Linked DNA regions of Homo sapiens: regions 1, 3 and 4 are each reported to be linked to region 2. The links are microRNA targets in miRTarBase. Many come from high-throughput screens and were not tested one by one. Region 2 holds a microRNA gene; each other region holds the end of a gene's coding sequence.
The links. The annotated mature microRNA hsa-miR-7110-3p reads UCUCUCUCCCACUUCCCUGCAG and lies in region 2 at 4,153-4,174, opposite strand. An mRNA with a match to its seed (bases 2 to 7 or 8) in the 3' UTR can be bound and repressed. Matches are read on the target gene's strand: a 7mer-m8 pairs with bases 2 to 8, a 7mer-A1 pairs with bases 2 to 7 and ends in A, and an 8mer does both.

Region 1 (6,092 bases), not on the chromosome of region 2:
TAGTTTTTTTTAACTTTTATTTTGAAAAATTTTAAACCCACAGAAAAGCTGAAAAAGTGGTATAATGAATGCTGATATGCCCTTCACCTGGATGTAATCTTGTTAACATTATATTTGCTTTGCCCTTCTCTTCCTCTTTCTACACACCCACACTCACCACACAAACAACTTTGTTTTTACCTGAATCATTTGAAAGTTTCAGATGTCATGACACTTCACCCCTAAATTCTTTTGTACAAATCTTATAAGGATAAATTTTCCTACAGAACCACAATTCCATTGTCATACCTAAGAAAACTAACATGATTGAAGAATAATTTAAATATGGTTTATATTCAAATTTTCTCAGTTCTACCAAAAGTGTCTTTTATAAGTTGTCTTTCCTCCTGATATATTACATTGGTTTATGGTATCTTTTTAAAATCTAGAACAATCACCCCACCTCTCTTTTTTCTTTAAAACCACATCAGGCTATGCTATAATTTTTGTTTCAATCATCAAACATAATGTAGAAAACTTAAGAGGAAAAGGAAAGTCTATTACATTTACCTATACTTTTGCTTACTGTGTTCATTCTTCCTTCCTGAAGTACCAAGATTCTTTATTTTGTCACTTCTGTTTAGAGAAATTTCTTTAGCCTTTCTTTTAGGGTAGGTCTGCTGATGAAAAATTATCATAGCTTTCCTTTTGAGAATGTGTTGATTTCCCTTTGATTTTTAAAGGTTATTTTTGCTGGATGTAGAACTCTGGTTCAACAGTTCTTATCTTTAGCACTTAAAAAATGTTAAGAGCCCAGTCCACTTGTGCTGTAAGATGTCCCATCCATAATCAGGATTTGTCAGATTGCTTCCTCATGATTGGGTTGAGTTAAACATTTTTGGTAGAAGTACTACATAATCTTCATGTCAGGAAACAGTTAATATCAGTTTGTCTCACTTTTGGAAACCAAGTTGATCACTTCGCTAAGGAAGTAACTGCTAGATGTTTCCTTATAAAAAGGTACATTTTTCCTTTTATCATTTTTTTAAGCAATTTCTGGAGTAATATTTTGAGACCATGTGAATATCCTATTTTCCAATTATCTTGAACCCAGTTTTAGCATTCATTGATCATCCTTGAAATATTAGCTAGAGAATTACAAAATTCTGGCTTTACTAAATCTGTCATTCCTTCTACATTTATTAGCTAGCAGTATTCTCTAAAGAAGAGCCTTCCTTTTTTTCTTTAATTCAATGTATTATAAGCAATTACTGTCAGTATTGTTTTTGATGGTCAAATTGCCTTAAATTTGGCCAATAAGAGCCCCTTCAAGTTATATGTATCCTTTAAAACTGTCCCCATTTTAATTTTTGAAAACTTGTTTTATTGTATAACAAGATGGTCTGGGATTTTGTACTTTCTCTGCCCAAACCTGGAATTAAAACTACCCTGAGCTAATTTCTCATCTAATGGATTGCCAAAAATTCAAAAACTGAACAACACACTCTGTCTGCAAGGCTATAGGTGGAAGTTCAAAATGGTACAACTTCTTTGCAGGGGAATTTTGCAATATCTAATTACATATGCATTTGTCGTTTGATGAAGCAATCTCCTCCTCATCTAAGAAGATTTCAAGAATACCAAAAAAATACATACACAAAGTAATTCTCTGGGGCATTGTATAAAATAGCTAAATATTGAAAACAATCTAAATACCCAACCACAGAAGACTGGTTTACTCAATTATGGTAAAACCAAGTAATGGAGTACTATACAGCAATAAGAAATGAATGAAGAAGGTTTCTGTGAACTGATACAGAATGATTTCCAAGATATATTGTTAAGTAAACAAAACATAGTACAAAAGCATTATATAGCATAATATTTTTGGTTGTTTTTTAAACCTTATCCTGTATTGTACTTATTAGCACTGGAAAGTGGAAGAGGTCTCTGCTAATTAGGGTGGAGAATTAATCACCTACTGGGTTTCCTTCTTTTCCCAGGATTGCCAGCAGTGAGTATCCCTGTTGCACTCTCAAACCAAGGGTTGCCAATAGGACTGCAGTTTATTGGACGTGCGTTTTGTGACCAGCAGCTTCTTACAGTAGCCAAATGGTTTGAAAAACAAGTACAGTTTCCTGTTATTCAACTTCAAGAACTCATGGATGATTGTTCAGCAGTCCTTGAAAATGAAAAGTTAGCCTCTGTCTCTCTAAAACAGTAAACATATCTTACAAATTAAAATGACTTTTAGGCTGGGTGCAGTGGCTCACACCTGTAATCCCAGCACTTTGGGAGGCCAAGGCGAGCGGATCATGAGGTCAGAAGATCTAGAACAGCCTGGTCAACATGGTGAAACCCCGTCTCTACTAAAAATACAAAAATTAGCCAGGCTTAGTGGCGGGCATCTGTAGTCCCAGCTACTCAGGAGGCTGAGGCAGGAGAATCACTTGAACCCTGGAGGTGGAGGTTGCAGTGAGCCGAGATCATGCCACTGCACTGCACTCCAGCCTGGGTGACAAAGCAAGACTGTGTCTCAAAATAAATAAATAAAATAAAATAAAATGACGTACAGAGATTCTATATTCTAGAGAGTCAAATGGTCTTGCTCAATTCTTGTAATTAGGTTCTTGTTAATACAGTCATTCCATGGAATTACTTTTTAAAATTCCTGTGACAATTAATAATAAATAACGTGTCAGCATTTAGTAAGCATCCACTAAGTGTACAATACTTCTACAATAACACAAGATACCTGTTCCTCAAAGACAATGCATTCTGCCATAATGTTCATTAAAGAGTTTACAGTAAAAATAAGATTAGGGATAAACTTCTCAAAAATTGTACATCTGTGTAACTAAAGCACTAACAAAAACATGAATAGTCCTTCTAGAGGTAACTTGGATAGCCTAGGCAGGCAACTTATCATGTGGTGAAGGCCGCCTCAGGGGTTGTTAAAAATGCACAGAAACAATTGAGTGCGATTATTGGCTTCTGAGCGCTGAGCAGAGCAGGTGGAAGAGGAACTTTGAGCACAGGAGGAAATGCAACCAGTCAGGGCCCAGAATCATGCAAATCTCAGGGGTATGCCTCTCTGGGGAGGAGCTCCACTTGCAGGGACTCCTTTTATTTCCCTAAGAAAGAGCTGAAATGACTGAGAACTTTCCTTTCCTCCTTAGAGTTACAATTTTACTTCTGCTATTCCGGAGCCCATGCCTAGAAGCCAGAACAACTCCATGTTACACTGAGTTCATGCTCCTATTTACTGATCACAAATGAGCTCATTAATGTCATCGAAACATTTATTGTAACCTAACAGACCATCACAGATTGGAAACTTGGTAGATAGCAGAGCATGGTATTAGTGAAAAAGGTTCAAAATACACAAGTAACATACACTCTGAAAAACATGCAGATAATTTGCTGATGAAGCAGAAGAGGGGATGCGCATGGCAAGAACTTGCCTTACCCCAGATTCTCTATATCTCATGGTTTCCTTTTCCTCTTGACTGTCTTTACGAGTGTTTTTTATTTGGGACCCTCGAGCCCAGAGATATTAATGGATATCTGTATTCAATATTTGACAAAATCTAATGGAAACCATCCATTTACTCATGATAAGGCTTCATCACTGGATTTCTGTGTCTTCACTAGAACACCATTGTCATCTCATATTGATCAGGTATTTTAATCTAGCACTTACATATTGTTGATAAATGAAAGCTGAATTGTTACTTAATAAATTCACTTTGTTTAGTAAAAAAAAATTGTTTTCTAAATATGACGTTCATGAAGAGAAAATAATGAGTCAGAATCATCTGCAGAACCACTGGAATGTTTCATCGTCACCTGTTAGTTTTCATAAACAGTTTTCTGTCCTCTCTGAGATCCTCCCGCTCCCAAATACTCAACCTGATTAACTTCACATAAAAGTCTTATGTGCCAGGCTTAGTAATATTCCTATAGATTTTGACTCTGAATCCCTGAAAGAGGAAGAAATCCATGAGAGAAAATTGCATTACTTTATAGCAAGAGGAAACCGTTTTAAGTTTTTTAATTGCTCAGACACCACAACATCCTAGATGGAGGAAACCATTTTAGTTGAAGGAGCAAATATGATGTCAAAAGCAAGTAAATAAACAAACCGTTGCCCCAATCTGTTTTTATGTAATGAATTTAAAAAAAAAGAGAGAGAGAGAGAGATGGGCTCTCCCTGTGTTGCCCAGGCTAGTCTCAAACTCCTGGGCTCAAGTGATCTGCCTCCCTCAGCCTCCCAAAGTGCTGAGATTAAAGACGTGAGCCACCACACCTGGCCGAAATAATAATATTCAATATTATATATTCAATGATATTATTCAGTATTCAATATTATTTCAAATAATATTAAATCTCTTGTTCCTGTATCTCTACATGAGCTGCACTAATAATTTGAATCTGGAAATTAAAAAGTGAAACATTTACCGTTCTCATATACTGATACCCAACTACCATGAAATGATACCTAATTTGTTTTTCTTTTCTCTTCATTTTTACTCTTAATCTAGTAGGTCTCATTTTGCCAAGTCACTGTCTGGGAATTTAAGTGGCAAATACTTTCTTTGTCTCAGCTAATTAAACTCTAAAATTATTAGCAACAGAACTTCCAGAACAGAGTGTTTTTGAAAGGTGAAGATGTCTACACGTGTAAGATGAGTTCCTTGATAACACCTGAAAGACCCAAACCAAAGCAAAAGTTTGAACACGTGTCAGAGTGAAAAAATGATGTGATCATAAAACATGGTGCTCTGCCACCACAGAGAGCCAAAGGAGCAAGCGGGAAAACCACTGTTCCACGCTGGCCCACACTTAGCGTTACCAAAAAAAGCACCTGAAACCCAGGAGGCAGAATGTTCCCTTTGAGTGGCTGACACCGGGTCCTCTGTGATGACATCAGACTGGGCTGTTTAAAATTAAAGATGGCATGGTATAGAAGAGGAGCTTGCAAAATGACAAAAAAAAGTGCTTATTCCTATTAGGAAATAGCTGCACCTCCTAATGTAAATAAGTAACTTTAGGATTTTAAACAGAATCTGAAGGATAGTGAAAAGAAATAAGCAGGTACTAATAAGTAGACCTCGGGATTCAGCAAGCCGTGTGCCATACCTTATTTGATTCAAAGCAGGGGAGTAGGCCAGGCGCGGTGGCTCACGCCTGTAATCCCAGCACTTACGGAGGCCGAGGCGGGCGGATCACGAGGTCAGGAAATCGAGACCATCCTGGCTAACATGGTGAAACCCCATCTCTACTAAAAATACAAAAAATTAGCCAGGCGCGGTGGCAGGCGCCTGTAGTCTCAGCTACTCAGGAGGTTGAGGCAGGATAATGGCATGAACCTGGGAGGCAGAGCTTGCAGTGAGCCGAGAGTGCACCACTGCACTCCAGCCTGGGCGACAGAGTGAGACTCCATCTCAAAAAATTAAAAAATAAATAATAAATAAAAAGCAGGGGAGTAAAATAATGGAACTTTAAAAATATCTCTTATTATAAATTTTCATTCATTAACTACTTTTAATCCCCCTCCCTTTTATTATTATTATTTTTTTTTTTTTTTTTTTTTGAGACAGGGTCTTGCCCTCACCCTGGCTGGAGTACAGTGGCACAGTCCTGCTCACTGCAGCCTTGACCTCCTGGGTCCAGGCAATCCTCCCACCTCAGTCTCCCAAGTGTGGCACCACCAGGCCCAGCTAATTTTTTTAATTTTTTGTAGAGTCAGGGTCCTGCCATGTTGCCCAGGCTGGTCCTGAACTCCTGGGCGCAAGCCATCTGCCCACCTTGGCCTCTCGAAGTGCTGGGATGACAGGAGTGAGCCACCGTGCCCAGTCCCCCTCCCTTTCTTCAAACATCTGGTTATCTGTACCAAGGCACAAGCCTAGGAAAAGACATATCCGTTGTGTTTAGAAGGACCCAGAGGAAGTTTAAAATAGAAGGCTTTCCTCAGTTATTTAATAACTTAAGCAATGTGTACACTAGAACATAAACCTGAAAATTTAATAAAGGCAAATAACACGAAAAAAAAACCAAAGGCAACATTAAGTAAAAGTAATTACTACAGGATTTCGGAGGAGCTTTTTTAT
Region 2 (6,092 bases):
CAGCACTTTGGGACGCTGAGGTGGGCAGATCATTTGAGGTCAGGAGTTCAAGACCAGCCTGACCAACATGGTGAAACCCCGTCTCTACTAAAAATACAAAAATCAGCCAGGTGTGGTGGCAGGCGCCTATAATCCCAGCTACTCAGAAGGCTGAGGTATGATAATCGCTTGAACCCGGGAGGCGGAGGTGGCAGTCAGCCAAGATGGCACTATGGCACTCCAGCTTGGGTGACAGAGTGAGGCTCTGTCTCAAAAAAAAAAAAAAAAAAAAAAAAAAAGATGCTCAAAATCACTAATCGTTAGGGAAACACATTTCAAAACCACAATGAGATGCCACTTCACACCCATTAGGATGGCTACTATTAAAAATGAAACCAAACCAGAAAATAACTGTTGGCGAGGATGAGGAGAAATTGGAACCCTCGTGCCTTGCTGGTGGAAACGCAGAATGGTGCAGCCACTGTGGAAAATGGTCTGTCCATTCCTCAAAAAACTAAAAATAGAGTTACCAGATGACCCAGTAACTCCACCTTCAAAAGAATTGAAAATGGGATGTCACAGAGGTATTTACTTGTACATCTATATTCACAGCAGCATTCTTCACAATAGTCAAAAGGTGAAACTGACCCAAATGTCCACTGATGGATGAATGGGTAAACAAAATATGGTATGCACATACAATGGAATATTATTCAGCCTTTAAAAAGGTATGAGATTCTAATACATGCTACATACTTTCAAGAATGAACCTTGAAAACAGTGTGCTAAGTGAAATATGCCAGATACAAAAGGATGTATGATTTTGCTTATATGAGGTTCCTAGAATAGTGGAATTCATAGAGACAGAAAGTAGAATAGTGGTTACCCGGGCTAGGAGGAGTGGGGAATGGAGAGTTATTCTTTAATGGTTATGGAGTTTCAGTCTGGGTTGATGAAAAAGTTCTAGAGATGGATCATAATGATGGTTGGACAACAATGTAAATGTACTTAGTGCCACTGAATTGTACCTTTAAAAATGATTAAAATGGTAAATTGTGTGCTATGTATATTTTACCACAATATAAAAAGGCATAGACATACACACCTTCACTCAGCTGCAGTAGCCAAATTTCAAGTACTCAATACTCATATGTGGCTAATGGCTATTGGATAACACTGGCCTAAAATAGAAGATTTTGGAGGTGACATATATTTGGTGGGACCATAAGCATAATTTGGTTTTGATAGATAGCTTAAGAATATCAGCTTCCTTCTTCTAGTCAACAATAAAAGAATGGGAAACAGTAAGAGCACAATGCACAGAGTTTGGTTCTGAGCACCAATGTGCACTCACTCTCAAACTGGGAGCCTCCTGCGGGCAGGGCTGGTGCCTGTGTTATTCCATGTGATGTGGGCAGGTGATGTAACCCCTGGACATAGGCTTTGCCTTCCTAAGAGGGCCTGATGCTTTCCAGATGAGATTCCACATCTTCTTACGTTGCGGTGGAGAAAACCAGCTTCTGAACCTGGAAGCATCACCTTCCCGTGCCCGGCGCAGAACAGCTCCTGGAAGCCAAACACCTCTAGAAGGGGAGGGAGCAGCATGAGGAAGGTAAGAGAGACAGGGTCCTGCTCGGAAGGCTCCAGTTAGGTGGTGATGGGGACTCACTGCTGGGCAAGGGGCACCAGAATAAAGATGGGGATCAGTTCTCCCCTAACTCACGTACTTCCTGCAGAGAAATCAGCCTGCAACGCAGGATCCAGGCGAACAGAGGAGGGTGATAGCAAGCCCTCCAGTGGGGCAGAGGGAGGAGGTCTGCACTAAACATCAGTGAAACCACAAAGAACCAAGCATGGTGACTGGGAGTAGAACTAACCCGGATGCCAGGGGGCGAGTGGAGGAAGAGAGTTCTGTCCGCAGGGGGAGCTGCCCAGAGCTGCGACGAAATTTGCTGAGGTCATGCCCAAAGTCAATAAATAGGGATGTGAAGAGGATTCCATTTCATGATGTGTTAAAAAATTTCTTTAAATCTATATTTGACAATATTTCATGTTTTTAAGTCTTCAAATAGAAGCTAAGCCAGGAAAATCTGAACTCTGAGGATGTGGAATGGCCAGAAAGTAAGCCCTGTGCCTCGCAGGTGGGCACTAGTGGTCCTCAGCCAGGAAGTGGCTCTTGTGAGATTATTATTGAAAAGGTGCAGTAAAAAAAACCCAAAAACAAACAAACAAAAAACTTTTTTGAAAAACACAAGCAAATATGTTCCCCCTACAAATACTCCAAATAACGAAGGAGACCCATGTCCAGACACACACATGCTAGAATGGTAAACACCTGTGTCAGGATTAAATGACACCTTGTAAGATGTTCATGGTCCCCAACAGGAAGGGACTCAATAATTGTGTTTCAATGATGTCTAAATGTATGCTTCTGTCTTTCATATCCAATCCTTGGGTGAAGTCCAGGGGCCACTGCCAAGGAAGTGGGTGCTTAGGGGAAAAGAGAAGAGCTGAACTGGCAGGAGGGTCAATTGGAAAGTTGGAGAACTGCACAGAACAAGGGCTCTCAAAACCTTGATTTCCCTTAATGAAACCACCCACAGTGGCACCATCGTCAAAACAGCTGTGAAGAACTTGGAGGCTCTGTCCTCCTCTCAGCAGATTCATCAGCAGGAAGGACTTAGGCCAGGAGGAAGGGAGCTGGGTCCAGGAAAGGAGGGCTGTTCCTGCAGGCCAAGTCCCCATCAAGGCCACCAGAGCGTGCTTCCAAGTACTGCAGCTTAAGCAACGCCCCCCTGAACTACTGGAGGAATCCAACTCTAGGACCGCTACTTATAACTAAAGACAAGATACTAGCACAAGGCCACTCTGCTGTCCATGGAGAAATACCACCAAGCAGACAAAACATGTTACTGCTGTGCTCAGGCTCTGCCTGCACCGCTGGGCACAGGGCTGGGGTGTCAGTCACGCAGGAATGCAGAAAGCAGGAGGACTCACCAGAAAGGTGGGTCAAAAAGGAGATGTACACAGGCAGGAGGCCGAGCAAGGCACCCATCCATGGAAAACGTGGCGTAAAGATTTGGGGTTATTATGGTTGGTGGTGGGGGCTGGTGAGCAGATCTAATATCTGCACCTCGAGAACACACCATCCCTTCCAGCCAGGGTGCACAGCAAGCAGCTGGCACAGAGCCCCCCTTCCCCCACTCCATTCATGCCCCTGAAGCGGCAACTTAATTTTCTTTAAAGGGAGATTGGGGAGGGAATGGAGAGACGAAGAGAAGACAAATAGCTGGAGAAAGATAAATACCTAAGTAAGTTCCAGGAAAACACACACAGAGGAAACACACCAATGCTGAAACCGCAATGATCCAGAAGAAGCTAGTGTTTGGTTACCATTTGCTTCAGCATCCCAATTTCCCTGATCATCTTTTGTTTTTTTCTTTCTTTTTCTTTTTCTATTTTTGAGACAGGTCTTGCTTTCTAGCTAGGCTGGAGTAGTCATGCGATCATAGATCATTGCAGCCTTGAACTCCTGGGCTCAAGAAATCTTCCCTTCCCAGCCTTACAAGTAGCTGGGACTATAGGCATGTACCCCTATGCCCAGCAACTTTATTTTCTGTAGACATGAGGTCTCATAATGTTTCCCAGGCTGGTCTTGAACACCTGGCTTCAAGTGATCCTCCCACCTCAGCCTCCCAAAGTCATTGATCATCTTGACGTATTTCCTCTCATTAGCTTGTCATTTTCCAGCAGGATATTCTGCGGTCCAGTTTCCCTGTTCTGCTCTCAAATGACTGACAGGGGGCCGACACCCTCAGGAGTCACCTCCATGCAGATGGGGCACTGGAGCACTGCTCTGTACCTCCCAGCAGAGGTGGTGGAATGAGGAGGATGTGAGTATCCACCTTTTTTAGTACAGGCTCCACGAAAATAAACCATACCACCAAATAAATGGTTTAATTTTATTTCAAAATTGTACAAAATGGCCATAAGCGGCTATAAAAAATTTGTCTTCAGAACATGTGGAAATTCAGAAACAACAAAACAGGTATCATTCACAGTGTAATGGAAAAGCTTTTTCTGAGGCAGGAATTATAACTCTTCCTTCTTTTTCCCTAGTCTTTCATGGTCTCCCTCCCGGAGGGCTCGAATATAATTGGTAAATCCCAATTCCTGCAGGGAAGTGGGAGAGAGAGAGAGAGAAAGAGCTTTAATCCCTGAGCTGGCTGTGCACTCTCTCTCCCCACACCCCCAGCCCCTCCAGGGGGTCACTCCTATGACAGGGAGAGGTGGGCAGACTTCTGCAAGGTGGAGAGGGTCTGCGTGGCTTGCACCAGCCCCGACCAGCAAGTGAGAAAACCCTCGGCATCTGGAGTCCAGCCTGCCTCTGGGGACAGGACATCTGTGGCAACCCCTTGGGACTCTCCTCCAACAATGTCAAGCCTCAGCCAGGCCCAGGGCCTGGGCCTCTCGGTGCAGTGTTCCAGCTGACTTCTGCAGTTTCTGGGATGCTGCCCAGTGCTGCCCCTCCTCAGTGGAAGTTTCCCTGCCCATCAGCAGAGAGAGAGCTCTGGGCAGACGCCTCTCCCCCACTTACTGTGCGGTCGCTGTCATACTTTTCTGCGAACTTCCCATAGTGGTAGTAGTGGAAAGTGGGGTAGCCCTTGACCGCCTCCTGCTGGCACAGGTCTTGGTTCTTGTCTTTGACACAGTCAACAGCGGCACAGGCAATCTAGGAGCCAAGGTAAAGAGAGTTGGCACAGGGTGTCCCCAGGCTGAGGCCTGGACCCCACAACACAGATTGCACATCTAGTCCACGTCACAGGCCCACTCTGATTTTTCTCCTCAGTGGCAGGTAGGAACTGAACCAAAGCACCCCCAGCTCAGGACTCCTTGGAGACTGATGGTGCTTGTTTTCAATTTCCAGATGGGTAAGGTTAGGGGACTCGGCCTGGAGTGCCTTTAGACTGTCCTTTAAAATCAAGAGTATGATGATCGTAAAGGAAATGATGACTTGAAAGCATTTGTAAACACCACAGGTTCTGTGGTGCTATCTGTAAGGGACTGTAGGATTTAATCATTTCTCCACTAATATTTCCGGAACATTAGCTTGGGGGGACAGTATAGTGCCAAGGTTAAGGGCAAGAGCTTTCAAGTCAAGTTCCCCAAGTGCACTCTTGGTTTGCCTGGACAGTAAGACTTAAGGAAAATAACTCAGCCTCTTGGTGCCTCATTTTTTTCAGCTGTAAAATGGGGATAATAATAGTATCTAGGCTATCAGGATATTGTGAAGACTGAATAAGAGAATTCCAGTGAGGCCAGTGAGCACAGAACCTGGCACCAGATTCATGGTCAGGAAATGTCAGCTGCTATTACAGTCACTTCTTCCAACCCCATATACAAGCTCTGTCCCCACTTAGGGGCTCAGTGTCTGGGCAGGGGTTGGATAAAGGGACAATTCCAACATGATGTGATGTGAGGGATGAGGGAGGTGGTCCAGGTGCCAGGTGAGTGGGGCAAAGGCGCTCTGTATGATTCGCCATCTGAGCCAAGACTGGAAGAGGAGGAGACCAGGGAAGCACATCTGGAAACTGGAGGAGCCCCGCATGAGTAAAGCCATCAGAATGTTTGGTCAGAAAGTGGTTCCCACATTGGCCACTGGCCTCTTCTTGACCATCTAGCAAATTCCACATGCTGGGTAGCTTTTCCTCATCATTTGTTGTTTTTTCAAAGGAAGACAGTATAAAGCAGAAATGGGGAACTTGTTTCCGGTTGAGGGTCATGCACCAGGGAAGCCCGAGAAGGGGTCCTCAATGGCCATACCCAGTACAGAGGTGTTATGGAAGATGGGGCAGATTCCCATGAGAATGAGTCCTCCTACCAGGCAACACACACTGAAACCCTGCCGTGTGCCAAGCCTGTTCTAGATGCTGGGGGACAACGTCGACCTTGACAAAGTCCAGTTATCAAGCGTCTGCTGTATGACAAATTAGATCATTTTAGATAGAGCTCAATGAATGCTTGGAAGAAATTAAAAGAGGGTGATTCAATAAGATAATTTAAAATTATTGAATAACCATGATTCACACAGTTCTTTGGTTGATGGTTATTTG
Region 3 (6,092 bases), not on the chromosome of region 2:
ATTATTATTACTGAAGAGTTGCACTTTTCAAAGTGGATGTGACTTCACTTTTTTTTTTAAATTTATGTTCTGGGATACATGTGCAGAATGTGCAGTTTTGTTGAGCAGACTCATTCGTGATGTCTATAGTGTTAAGAACAGACTTCCCAAAGTCTGCTGGTGTAGTAAATATTTTTTCTTTAGAAAATACATCTCTCACTGACAGAGTCTTTAGGCTCTAATCTCTAGTCTTTAGTCTCAGACTAGATTGTAAACATGGTGTGGGGAATAGAGCATTGATGCAGGAGGCCAAAGGCCTGAACTTTAGTCCCAGCTCAGCGATTAACCAGCTGTGACCTTGGGACAGTCAATTAACCTCATCAGGCTCAGCTTCATTTCTCCTCAGGAGAAGGCAAAACTGTCCACCTCCAACTCTTCTTCCAAAATCCCATACCATAATTGATGTACTTGAGAAGAAGTTCGCTTTAACACAAACATCAGGCAAAGCCCAACTATTTAATCATCCCATATAATTAAAAGCTGCTATTAGAAGGATTTAGCTATTTTTTACAGAGGATAGAATTGGCAAGTGCATATTTAGGTTTTGAGAAATAAAATATTCCAAGCTTTTGTAAAATACAAGTTTCTTCATACACCCTAAGGAAAAAGCATTTACTGGCCTTTCATAAAATAGGTAAATTATCCTTTCTCTGAGCCTCTGCTTTGTAGAATAATGCTCCAGCAATCGTCATAACCCCATATCCACCCATATTGTCCTTTCAAGGTCACACTTTCAGGCACTGCCATGAGAATGGAGAGGAGAGGGAAGAAGCTACTTCTTCCTCTGTCTATGGGCCATAGACACCTGTCCCTGCTTCCCCACACTCAGTCATTCAGCCCTTGGGCCAGTATCAGTATACGCACTTTATCTTCATAACAGTGAACTAAAATAAGAAATAAAAATAGCAGGAAAAGATCTCTGTTGGGCACTGATGTAAATGACAGCTAATGTGTTCCTGCAATCCTCATTTCCTTTTTGTTTTGCCTCTGGAGACTCTTTTTCTCCATCTGCCAGGTGGGAACATCATCTTCAGGATGATGGAAAAGGCAGAAGTAATGTGGGTGACTGATAATTTAACAACAGGCAGATTGCAAGGATGACCCAGTATATTAAAAACCAGCTCACCAAGCATAAGGGTATGTGACTTACTTTACAGAAGACACTTTGCTTTGTAAGCTCTTGTACAGAGGGGGAGATTTTATTTTCACTTCTTTAAGGAAGAGCTTCTTTCCTTGTTTTCTCCCAAGACTAGGAATGCTGGATCTGGGCGGGGTAGGTATTGCAGCAGTGTGCAGAGTCTCAGACCATGGTGATGGAAGAGTTGATGTCCTCAGCACATAAAGAGGAGGATTCCTCACAATAGGAATCTCAACGGACTGCCAGCAATTGCATAGCCAGCTGGTCAGGCTCAGGTTGAGGTACTTGGCTTAACAAGCAAAGTCACTTAATAATGTTAGAAAAGAACCTTGGGTTAAACCCTGGAAAAGTGAGCTTGCAGGTCTGGGTCTGTTTCCTTATTCAGCAATGGGCAGTAAGAACATAGAGTGATGTCACTCAGCACATGCCTGGCCCATAACTGTCTTCTTTGATGCCTGTTTTTTTCTGTTTGTAGGGCCAAGGAGATCTGTTGAAGAATGCCAAGAATGAAGCTATAGAAAACATGAAGCAGATCCAGCTGGCATGCCTGTCCTGTGGACTGAGTAAAGCCCCCAGCAGCAGTGCTGAGGCCAAGAGCAAGCGCAGCCTGGAAGCCATAGAGGAGAAGGAAAGTAGTGAGGAGAATGGGAAGCTGTGACTCTGGGCATTATCGACACGTTCACCCATCTTATCAAGGACTCTGGTTTCTCATTCTTGTTTTCTTTCTTTAAATGTTTTATAAGTTCACAAAATGGTGCCCTATATGGGGTATTGGACATAGATATTTTCACAATGTCAGTATTTCAGTGTAGTTAATTTATCTAAATTAAAGCCTTTAGTATCAGTGTTTTAAATTCTGAGACATGTGTCAACACCCCTGTGTGGATGCCTGTGGAAGAGTGTGTGTGTGTGTGTGTGTGTGTGTGTGTGGCAGAGAGAGAGAAAGAGAGAGAGAGAGAGAAATTCTGTTAAAATCTATTCTGTGTTGCATTATTCATTTAGTGAGTTATTCCTTGATCATTTTGGGACAATTGTTTTAATCTGAAATTCTAAAGAGCACTTACTGTAACCTGTTGCTGTGTTTAATTTGACTTCTCTGCCTTTGACATTTAATTTAGTGATCTTAGCATAGCTTATTATTGAAGGAAGCCAAATTTATCAAAGCATAGATGTTTTGGTAGATTAAATATAGATTAGAAAAATTCCTAAGAATCAGAGTAGAAATAAAAGTGAATGAAAGATTAAACAGATGATGAGAATTTCTAAAAAGATTAGCAAGGTCATTTCTTCAGTCAGAAAACTTTAAAAAATATTTATTAAATAAAATCAATTTTTAGGAAGTTTTCTGTAGTCATTTACTAAACATATGATTTCACTAGAAAAGCTGATCATAAGTGAATTTATACCTACCTGTGTGGTACTCTGAAACACACTGAAAGCTCTGTTGCAATTAGGATTTTGATGTGACAATAATATTGTTGTATAATTTCGAGATTTGTAGGAAGGTCTCATTCTTCCAAGCTGAGAGTCTAGCACTCATTTTCTATAACAGATATGGCAGCTTAGAGGTGTTGGCTTTGTTTGGATGTAATTTAGGGTACTAAATTTAAATTTAAAGATATTGTTCAAACAATATCATATCATCACATTGAGCTGATATAAATTCTGTGGGTCCGATAATATCTTTGTGATAATTTAAGAGCTAACCAGTTACCACACATCTATGATATAACCCTAACACACACAGAAAAGCATACATGCAAAAAGAAATGACTAATTAGGGTACATTTATAATTGCATCTAGGTAATTTTTACCCTAATGTCTTCATAAAGTACTTGAGTGTAATGTTTGTTACCTCCAACAGAACTAAATGTTCTATGGTTATGAAAGAATATATTTATTTAAAGCATTGCTTTTATTTTGAAAAGCTTCTTAATTAATTTGATTAACAAATATGCTAATTTGGGGAAACCTAGAGAAGATAATTGTTGAAATTTTGCAAATATAAACATCTCCTATAGCTTCTGTGTTATTTCTGACTTCTTAACACTATTATGTTTATGTTGCACATTACTGAAAGAGTAAAGATATGAAAAAAACACTTATTGTTTTCTTTTATTGTGAATTGAAAAAGCAAAGCTAATGAAAATGGGTTACTACATCAAAAATATCTTAAAGAGTTTGCTATTTCCATGGACCAGATATGATGAAATTATTCCCTGGGTTTAAAACTGGGCACTCGAGGAGGAGGTACCTGAAGTCATTTGAAGGCAAGTTTCCAATGATGCTACAATGGCCTGAAAAAATTTCTTTACCCTCTGTTATATTTAACTTGCTGGTAGGAGGAATAGTGGAATGCAGGTGTTAAGCCCTTTGTGGTGAAAAAGAGGTTCTATAGACAGAAACAAAACCCACCTTACATCAGCTGATTGGTTGATTTTACTAGTGTACCTCTTCATCTACTTGAATTCTATTTGGTAAATCCATGTCTTTACTGGATATACAGTTAGGTGGGAAGAGGAGATAAAGGATGACAAACTCTCAAACAATATTTATACATTTATTTACTCCAGGGTCAAATCCAATCCTTGGAAGTAGCTTCTCTAGTTTATTTTATTTGTCCCAGAGCTCTACTCACACTTAGGACCCACCCAAAAATTCTCAAAAACGTAATATGGATTCTGCCTCATCTGATGCTATTTCTGGCAGTGGGTTGTCAGCCATACTCTGCTTCATTCCACTGGGTGTCCTTGCTAGATGGGGAGTGAGATGTGGAGCAGGGAGGAGCTTTGGATTCTGGGAGTGGAGGTGGCAAGGGAAAAGTCTCCTAGTCTCCTGTGATGTTCCTGCCTCCAGATAGAATAGCAAAAACAAACAATTTTTTTTTGTGTATTATGCCTCCATGACATTGTTACATTCTATGAGGAGCATCTGTCTCCTTTCTAGACTTGAACTGTGGTAGAAAAAGCCCCCTTCTCTCTTCTATCTACTTAGATTTGGTGATGCTAGGAATGTAGTGTTTTAGATATTAATTCTATTTTTATTTATTCATTTTTACATCACCAATAGGATCTGAGGTGGAGATGGCGGGTATTATCACTGGCATTTTACAGGTGAGAAAGCCCAAAGCCACTGAGGTAATTAATGGAATAATTGATTTTGAACTTGGGTCTGTCTGATTTCATGTGCAAGATTATATACTTAGTGATTTTGATTTTAAGTTTATTCTTAACATTTTAAACCAGACTATTAACTCTTACCTTTATAACCACAGATACAAAGAACTGTATCATTTATTTTCTGAATATAAAATATTAATGGTCAATATAAAAATACAAAAATAGAGAACTATATACAACAGAAAAGCAAAATTACCCACTAATAACATTTTGATTTATATCCCTTTAGACACTGTTTAGAGTTTATACATATATGTAAATATGCTTGTATTTTAACAAAATTGAGATATTATATAAACTGTTTGTAGCAGGGTGTTTAAAATTTTAACAATATGTTATGGATATCTTTCTGTGTCAATAAATGTGTATTTACATTAGAGTTCCAAGCATTTGAACTGAATCTAGTCCAAAAATGATGTGTTTTATTTGGCCATTGAACATTTTTTAAAAAAATCTTTAAGCAATAGACAGCTTTTGAAATTCAGAAAATGTTACGTACAATTCAATGTCCTGCATGTTTTAAAATACTGGATAATCTAACAACACAGAACACCTCCCACTCCCCACCTCACAACCACCACACATATACTTTCTTGCTTGGCATCAGTTAATTGAAACTGCCCTCTCCAAAAGGGGCATATGCTGTCCAATTTTCTAGAGAGCCTTTTCATTCATTTATGTTACATCTGGACCTTAAGGACATGATAGGTGGTGAAACTTGATGAAAATTATCATTTATTGAGAGGCCAAAATGAGAGAATTGCTTGAGGCTGGGAATTGAGACTAGCCTGGGAAACATAGTAAGACCTTGTCTTTAAAAAATAAAAAAAAATTAATGGTCATTTATAATAATTATACAGTATCTTATTATATGGCTTACCAGAATATATTTAACCAATCTCCTATTGCTAGATTTTACTCACCTAATTTCTTGTTATATAAACATTCCAATAATAAAATCCATTTTTGCAAAGTTGTTCAACTTTTTCTTTGGGATACATTTCTAGAAGTGGAATTGTTGGGTCAAAGGATACAGAGATTTTTTGTTTTGTTTCATTTTTGTTTTTTAGGGATTTTGAGATACATTGCCAAATAGTCTCAGGAAAACTTGTTCAATTTAAAACCCCACCAGGAGTTTATGAGAGTGCTTAAATCTTTGCTAATGATAAATTTAATTTTTCTTATTTTCATCTTTGCCAATCTTCTAAGTTACAAAAATCTTATTTCTCTTTATCTTTAATCTCTAATGAGATTGGATGCATATTAATATGTTCATTGACTCTAAATAATCTAATTAAAAGTAAAAACTTTTGTACTCCAAAGGATACTACCAAGAAAGTGAAAATAGAACCCACAGAACAGGTTTGCAGGTCATATATCTGATAGAGACTGGCAACCAAAATTTATAAAGAACTATTACAACTTAATAAAAAGAAAACCAAATTTTTAAAAACTGGTCAAAGGATTGGAATAGACTTTTCTTCCAAGAAAATATGCAAACAGGAAATAAGCACATAGAAACGTGCTGAAGATCGTTAACCACTAAGATCACATAAATCATAGCCACAATTAGATATGACTTCACACCAAATAGGTTGGCTATAATAAAAAAGACAGATAATAACAAGTGTTAGTGAGGATGTGGAGAAATTGGAACCATCCTACCCTGCTGGTGGAAATGTAAAATATTTCAGCTGCTTTGGAAAACAGCTTGGCACTTCCTCAAAAGGTTAAA
Region 4 (6,092 bases), not on the chromosome of region 2:
TCTGCCTCCAGGGTTCAAGGGATTCTCCTGCCTCAGCTTCCCGAGTAGCTGGGATTACAGGCGTCCACCACTGCGCCTGGCTAATTTTTTGTATTTTTTAGTAGAGATGGGGTTTCACCATCTTGGCCAGGCTGGTCTCGAACTCCTGACCTCATGATCCACCCACCTCAGCCTCCCAAAGTGCTGGGATTACAGGTGTGAGCCACCGCGCCCAACCAGCTAGGGTTTTGAAGGTATGAAGTTATAAGAGGGCATGTTAAAGACAGGAGGGTTGGCCAGGCATGGTGGCTCACACCTGTAATCCCAGCACTTTGGGAGGCCAAGGCAGGCGGATCACCTGAAGTCGGGAGTTCGAGACCAGCCTGACCAACATGGAGAAACCCCGTCTCTACTAAAAATACAAAACAAAATTAGCCGGGCGTGGTGGCAGGCGCCTGTAGTCCCAGCTACTCGGGAGGCTGAGGCAGGAGAATGGCATGAACCCGGGAGGCGGAGCTTGCAGCAAGCCGAGATCGCACCACTGCACTCCAGCCAGGGTGACAGCGAGACTCCGTCTCAAAAAACAACAACAAAAAAAAAACCAAAAAAAAAAAACCCTAGCTATATACCCTCACACCCTACAAAACAAAACAAAACAAAATTAGCCAGGCGTGGTGGCGCATGCCTGTAATCCCAGCTATTTGGGAGGCTGAGGCAGGAGAATCACTTGAACCTGGGGGGCGGAGGTCGTGCGGTGAGGCAAGAACATGCCATTGCATTCCAGCCTGGGTAGTAAGAGCGAAACTCCTTCTCAAAAACAAAAACAAAAAAAAACCCAAAAAAAGACAGGAGGGTCATAAGGGGAGGGTTGACTGTGTGTCCCTCCAGGTTGTGCAGAGGGGATTAGAAGTAAGTAGGTTAGAGGGGAGGTGGAGGGAGTGTGCTGGGGTGTGAGCTTTTATGATGCTGAAAGGATCATGATATGCTAAGGACAGGATAGTGTTGGGTTGTACACACAGGTGTAGGCAATCCTGGTGGCTAGTATGTAAAAGTGAATGTCCTGACTCCCTTAGAGGGTACCTGCAGAGTGCCCTTGGAGGGACTAGTGCTGGAGAAATTAATAGGAGAGGGGACGGGCATCCATTAACCTTTTCTTGCCTGCAGCCTGTAGGGTCCAGCGTCAAAGCGAATCATGGGGTCCAGGGCTGAGCTGTGCACTCTCTTAGGCGGATTCTCCTTCCTCCTGCTACTGATACCAGGCGAGGGGGCCAAGGGTGGATCCCTCAGAGAGAGGTGACAACAGAGGGGGTAGGGCCCGGGGTGAGCTCTTCTCAGGAGCCTTCTGCTGGGGGTGGGGCTTCACAGGAGGCAAAACATAACTGTAAGTTTAGAATGGGGGTGAGAGGCTGTCATCTGGAGGGAGAGCGGGGGGCCTCAGTAGCCTCTTGAGGGAAGTGGGACTCCTGGCTCCCCAGGGCCTGGCCTACTCAATCTCTCCCACCTCATCCTCTGGCATGGACGCAGTCAGGGAGTCTGCTCCAAGCAGACACTGGTGGTCCCGCTCCACTACAACGAGTCCTACAGCCAACCAGTGTACAAGCCCTACCTGACCTTGTGCGCTGGGAGGCGCATCTGCAGCACTTACAGGTGAGGGATGGGGAGATGGGACCCCAAGAACCCCAACTAGGACCCGTACTCAGGGTCCTGAGCCGGGCGCTGTGTTCCAGGACCATGTACCGCGTTATGTGGCGGGAGGTGAGGCGGGAGGTTCAGCAGACCCATGCAGTGTGCTGCCAGGGCTGGAAGAAGCGGCACCCGGGGGCGCTCACCTGTGAAGGTGAGGCTGGGTCTTCCGGGCCTTGCGGGAGGCGCGCCCCACGGAGCTGGGGAGCTGGGTCGTCGGTTTGAGTCTGAACCCCACTTCCTCTGTCCTCAGCCATCTGCGCCAAGCCTTGCCTGAACGGAGGCGTCTGCGTTAGGCCTGACCAGTGCGAGTGCGCCCCCGGCTGGGGAGGGAAGCACTGTCATGTGGGTGAGTCAGCTTGTCCTCCCCACCTACCCAGGTGCTTGCCCCCGCCCCCTCTCTCAGCCCCTTCCTTTTTTCGGTAACTAGACGTGGATGAATGTAGGACCAGCATCACCCTCTGCTCGCACCATTGTTTTAATACGGCAGGCAGCTTCACCTGCGGCTGCCCCCATGACCTAGTGCTAGGCGTGGACGGGCGCACCTGCATGGAGGGGTCCCCAGAGCCCCCAACCAGTGCCAGCATACTCAGCGTGGCCGGTGAGTGGGCAGGAGTACGGGCCACCCGAGGGACTCGGGACGGGCGTCCGGGCTCGGGTAGTGGTCACACTCTTGGTCTCCTTTGTCCCTAGTTCGGGAGGCGGAAAAAGATGAGCGCGCTCTGAAGCAGGAGATTCACGAGCTGCGAGGGCGCCTGGAGCGGCTGGAGCAGGTGAGCCAAGCCTGCTGGGTGGGGCGAGGCCAGACGTCACTGTCAATACCCTGAGGCATCTCTTCCTTTCTAGTGGGCCGGTCAGGCTGGGGCCTGGGTCAGAGCGGTGCTGCCCGTGCCGCCTGAAGAGCTGCAGCCAGAACAGGTGGCTGAGCTGTGGGGCCGGGGTGACCGGATCGAATCTCTCAGCGACCAGGTGCTGCTGCTGGAGGAGAGGCTAGGTGCCTGTGAGTCCTCACACTCCTCCCGCCTTGACTTCTATTCCCCAACTTTCCCCAAGACCCCTCTCCATTCAGGCATTCCCTCTTTCCTCCAAGCCCCTCTCCAACATTCACTATCCTCATGCCTCTCCACTTTACCATCGTTCTCTTCTGAAATCCTGTCCCCAGCCCAACAGTTTCACTTATTGTTTGGTGAGAGTGGCAGTGTAGTCCACTCCAGGCTGACCACAGCCACTGTGTCTGCCATGTCATTAACCAGGCTCCTGTGAGGACAACAGCCTGGGCCTCGGCGTCAATCATCGATAAGAAGCCTCTACAGCACCCCTGCCCCCTAATTTATACAGAAACCGGACCCACTAATCCTCTGGGATTGGCCGACTGTGAGCTGCAGATAAGGCTATCAGCCACCAAAGAGCAATGAACAATGGAAACTTCAGAGAGCTGAAGAAAGGGGGAGGCCTGTGTTCTTGGCCTGCCCCTGAGTCTTCTGGCTGGGGGCAGGTTGCCTGGGCAAGAACTGCTTCTTCAATTCCTTAACAAATGCAACCACCAACACCCAGATCTCTCTCTCTCTTTATTTTCAGTTTTTTTGCTGTTATCCAGATAATTAATAAAAACCAACCACGCAAAACTGGGTCCCACCCTCTCCTTTTGCTCCCAGCCTACCTCCCCAGTTGTGGGAACAGGTCTGGAGTGAGAGGCAGGGAGTGGCTAATGCCACCAGGAAGAAATGAAAACTGGCTCAGAGAGGGGGAAGCCTCAACAGAAAAAGAAATAAATTAAAAGCCCTCCTATCCCCTCCAGCCAGGGTTCGTTCCTTTCCCCAACTCCCCAGGGGGCAGAAGTGAGTGCAGCACCTGATGTCTGCTTCTTCCCCTTGTGTCTGGTGAGATGGTGCAGCAGGGCTGCAGGGGGCTGGGTGGGGTCATGTCCACTGAAGAACTGTACTATGGGGACAGAAAACCAGAAATGTGGAGACTGAACTGGTATCCCAGAGAGTGCACGACCCTGGGCATCTGGGCAAGGGCAGGCATGAGACCTCTGAATTAGAAGGGTCCAGCCCCCACTGACAGGAGGCTACACTGGGAGGGAAGGTGAAGGTGCTGAGGAAAGCTCCCATGATGAGCCTGGGAGTGCTTCAGGTATCAGCTTCCAGCCAGAGGGCGAGAAGTCCTCCTCACAAATGGATGAGTCCATTGAATCCATGGACTTTGGAGTGGGGGGGATTTGTTCCAAAGAATGGATGAGTCCACTGGCCAATGTGGGGTAGAGGGGTAGAGAAGACCACATAGGAAGAGACTCCACTGGGGATGGAATGTTCCCCTCCCTTGTGTAGGCTGAGTCACTGGAGATGAGGGGGAGGCAACTGTCCCACAGACAAGACAGTAGGAGGTGGGGGTCAAGAGTGGAGACTGCACCGAGGCAAGAGTCCATGGATGGGGCCAAGAGGGGGCAGGAGTGGCGCTGTATCCACATTCACTTCAGAAGTTGAAGATTCCAAAGAGGAGAATAAGTGGGGAGAGGGGAGACAAGGAAGAGGGTTTGGCCCTGCTTCAGGGCCCACTGGGTGGGTAGGTGTGGGGAGGAAGATGGGGACAGATGGGAGGAGAGCTCAGAGCCAGGGTTCACCCACCGCCCCCAGGCTTCTTCAGATAGTCACCACCACCCCGGCCATCAGTGGAGATTTCCCGGAAAACAGTGAGCATGGAGTGCCGGACTCTGTCAGCCAGAGCTGGGACGTCATCTGGTGTCAGCCCTTCCGTGGGCACTGGGGGCAGCACCCGCACCTGACATTGTCCTGGGGCAAGGGGAGCACCATCATGGCCTGTCCACCCAGGTCTTTGCCCACAGGTGGGGCCCAGCTTCCGAGTGATACTCTTCCTCAACCTTTCAGTTCTCTTCCCCCAACCCTGGACAACCATCCCTGGGCTTGCCAGCTGCCACTTCTGAGGCCCTTCTCCTATACAAAGCCTTCTCCAATCCCCAGTTCAGACATCTCCTCAGCACCCCTCCAGCCCCCCTCCTCTGGGTTTGGCATTTACTGCTGAATGAGTGTTATTCATTACAGCTTTGTGCACACAGGCCTTATCTTTCCTGTTAAGATTAGTAACAGCCTCTCTTGGTGGGACCAAGTGCTACCCATCTGGCAGGGTATGGTGGGTGCTTAGTAAAGACTTATTGGCTGATGTGGGGTTAGACTAGATGACTGTGTAGACATCTCATGGCTCTGACACTGAATGATCCCCCTGCCTCACAGGGATGTCCTCCCAGCCTCTCCGGACACACCCTACCCCAGAACTGCTCAAAGCCCTCACCCGAGGTGAAGCGACGCTCCTTCTTGCAGTAGAAGTCTTGGTAGGAGGACATGACTATGGGGACAATGGGAACCTGGGGAAGGGTTAAAGCAGGTCAGTCCACAGCTCTCTTCAGAGACTCCTACAATAAGCCCCTGCCCAGAGATGAGGGAATGGTGGGGGTTGGCAGCTGAGTAGCAGAACGAAGAGCAGTAGTCACCTGGGCCTGCACTGCAAGATGGAAGGCGCCACGTTTGAAGGGCAGCATGGAGCCATTGTGGTTTCTCGTTCCCTCAGGAAACACCCAGACCCTCACCTGGGGGAGAAAGAGGGTCAAAGAAGACAAATACATATGGAGGAGTCAGAATAGGTGTGATGTTATAATGGGACCTTTGAGGCCCACTGGCCCTGCATATCAGTTTATTTACAACTGTTCTACTCTGTATCCCTCCAATCCCCCATTTCCCCAGGATGACTCACGTCCTGGGTGAGCAGGGTCTGGGCGACCTCAGACATGACACTGATGGCATCCCCCGTGCGCTTCCGGTCGATGAAGATGACTCCTGCCAGCCAGCAGGCCAGCCCGGCAGAGCCAGCCCACAGTAGCTCGCGCTTGGCAATGGGCACACAGCGGCCTGGCAGTACCTCCATCATCCCTTGGGCAGGGTGGGAGTGGGTGAGGATCGGGGTGGAGGCAGAGTGTCACAGAAGGCAACCCACCTCACCCAGCTCATCACCCTCTGGTAGGGACTGGAGGTGAAGGAGGAGACTAGGCAGGGAGGGGGGCCCCAAGTGAAGGAAAGGGTGACCAAAAGTATATGTAACCTGCTTATGAGGGCAGTTCTACCCAGGGAATGAAGGCCTGAGTGGGAGGCAAGGGGGCAATGTCCCAGAGGAAGGGGAATTGAGGATCTCTAGGAGAAGATATTCTAGGGAAGGTTTCAGGAGGGGAGGCATGGCTGGGGGAGGTGTGCCCTGTGGTGGGGTCTCACCAAGCAGATCGAGAGAGCTCTGGTGGTTGGAGACAACAACATAGGGCTGCGAGGGAGGGAAGTGGTGAGCCCCTCGCACCTCCACTCGGATCCCGTACAGGTATTTGATGTGGAGCAGCATTAGACGCAAGATCCTGTGGGGTCATGGCA

Region 1: miRTarBase lists QRSL1 as a target of hsa-miR-7110-3p. Seed matches in the 3' UTR shown: 7mer-A1 at 4,166-4,172, 8mer at 4,167-4,174, 8mer at 4,169-4,176, 8mer at 4,171-4,178, 8mer at 4,173-4,180 and 8mer at 4,175-4,182.
Region 3: miRTarBase lists PLCL1 as a target of hsa-miR-7110-3p. Seed matches in the 3' UTR shown: 7mer-A1 at 2,110-2,116, 8mer at 2,111-2,118, 8mer at 2,113-2,120, 7mer-A1 at 2,122-2,128, 8mer at 2,123-2,130, 8mer at 2,125-2,132 and 3 more.
Region 4: the mRNA of AGPAT1 is a reported target of hsa-miR-7110-3p. Seed matches in the 3' UTR shown: 7mer-A1 at 3,224-3,230, 8mer at 3,222-3,229, 8mer at 3,220-3,227 and 8mer at 3,218-3,225.

What each region holds. Positions count from the first base shown.
Region 1 is chr6:106,663,800-106,669,891 of GRCh38, forward strand. It overlaps QRSL1 (glutaminyl-tRNA amidotransferase subunit QRSL1), which reads left to right. Exons shown (of 11, transcript NM_018292.5): 11 at 1,983-4,618. The coding sequence ends at 2,203. Among named protein-coding and RNA genes, the nearest start is that of LINC02526, 29 kb to the right of the region's middle.
Region 2 is chr3:123,159,940-123,166,031 of GRCh38, reverse strand. MIR7110 (microRNA 7110) reads right to left here and starts at 4,238; the gene lies at 4,153-4,238. PDIA5 (protein disulfide isomerase family A member 5) reads right to left here. Exons shown (of 17, transcript NM_006810.4): 16 at 4,577-4,711; 17 at 3,928-4,152. The coding sequence ends at 4,072.
Region 3 is chr2:198,145,128-198,151,219 of GRCh38, forward strand. It overlaps PLCL1 (phospholipase C like 1 (inactive)), which reads left to right. Exons shown (of 6, transcript NM_006226.4): 6 at 1,653-4,736. The coding sequence ends at 1,835. Among named protein-coding and RNA genes, the nearest start is that of LINC01923, 230 kb to the right of the region's middle.
Region 4 is chr6:32,164,995-32,171,086 of GRCh38, forward strand. AGPAT1 (1-acylglycerol-3-phosphate O-acyltransferase 1) reads right to left here. Exons shown (of 7, transcript NM_006411.4): 3 at 5,943-6,076; 4 at 5,431-5,606; 5 at 5,171-5,266; 6 at 4,972-5,044; 7 at 3,218-4,454. The coding sequence ends at 4,282. It overlaps EGFL8 (EGF like domain multiple 8), which reads left to right. Exons shown (of 9, transcript NM_030652.4): 2 at 1,144-1,272; 3 at 1,504-1,626; 4 at 1,707-1,816; 5 at 1,916-2,011; 6 at 2,093-2,263; 7 at 2,356-2,435; 8 at 2,509-2,662; 9 at 2,916-3,287. The coding sequence starts at 1,172. The coding sequence ends at 2,962. It overlaps PPT2-EGFL8 (PPT2-EGFL8 readthrough (NMD candidate)), which reads left to right. Exons shown (of 16, transcript NR_037861.1): 10 at 1,144-1,626; 11 at 1,707-1,816; 12 at 1,916-2,011; 13 at 2,093-2,263; 14 at 2,356-2,435; 15 at 2,509-2,662; 16 at 2,916-3,291. MIR6721 (microRNA 6721) reads right to left here and starts at 5,122; the gene lies at 5,036-5,122. RefSeq lists enhancers at 2,044-2,796, 4,305-5,504.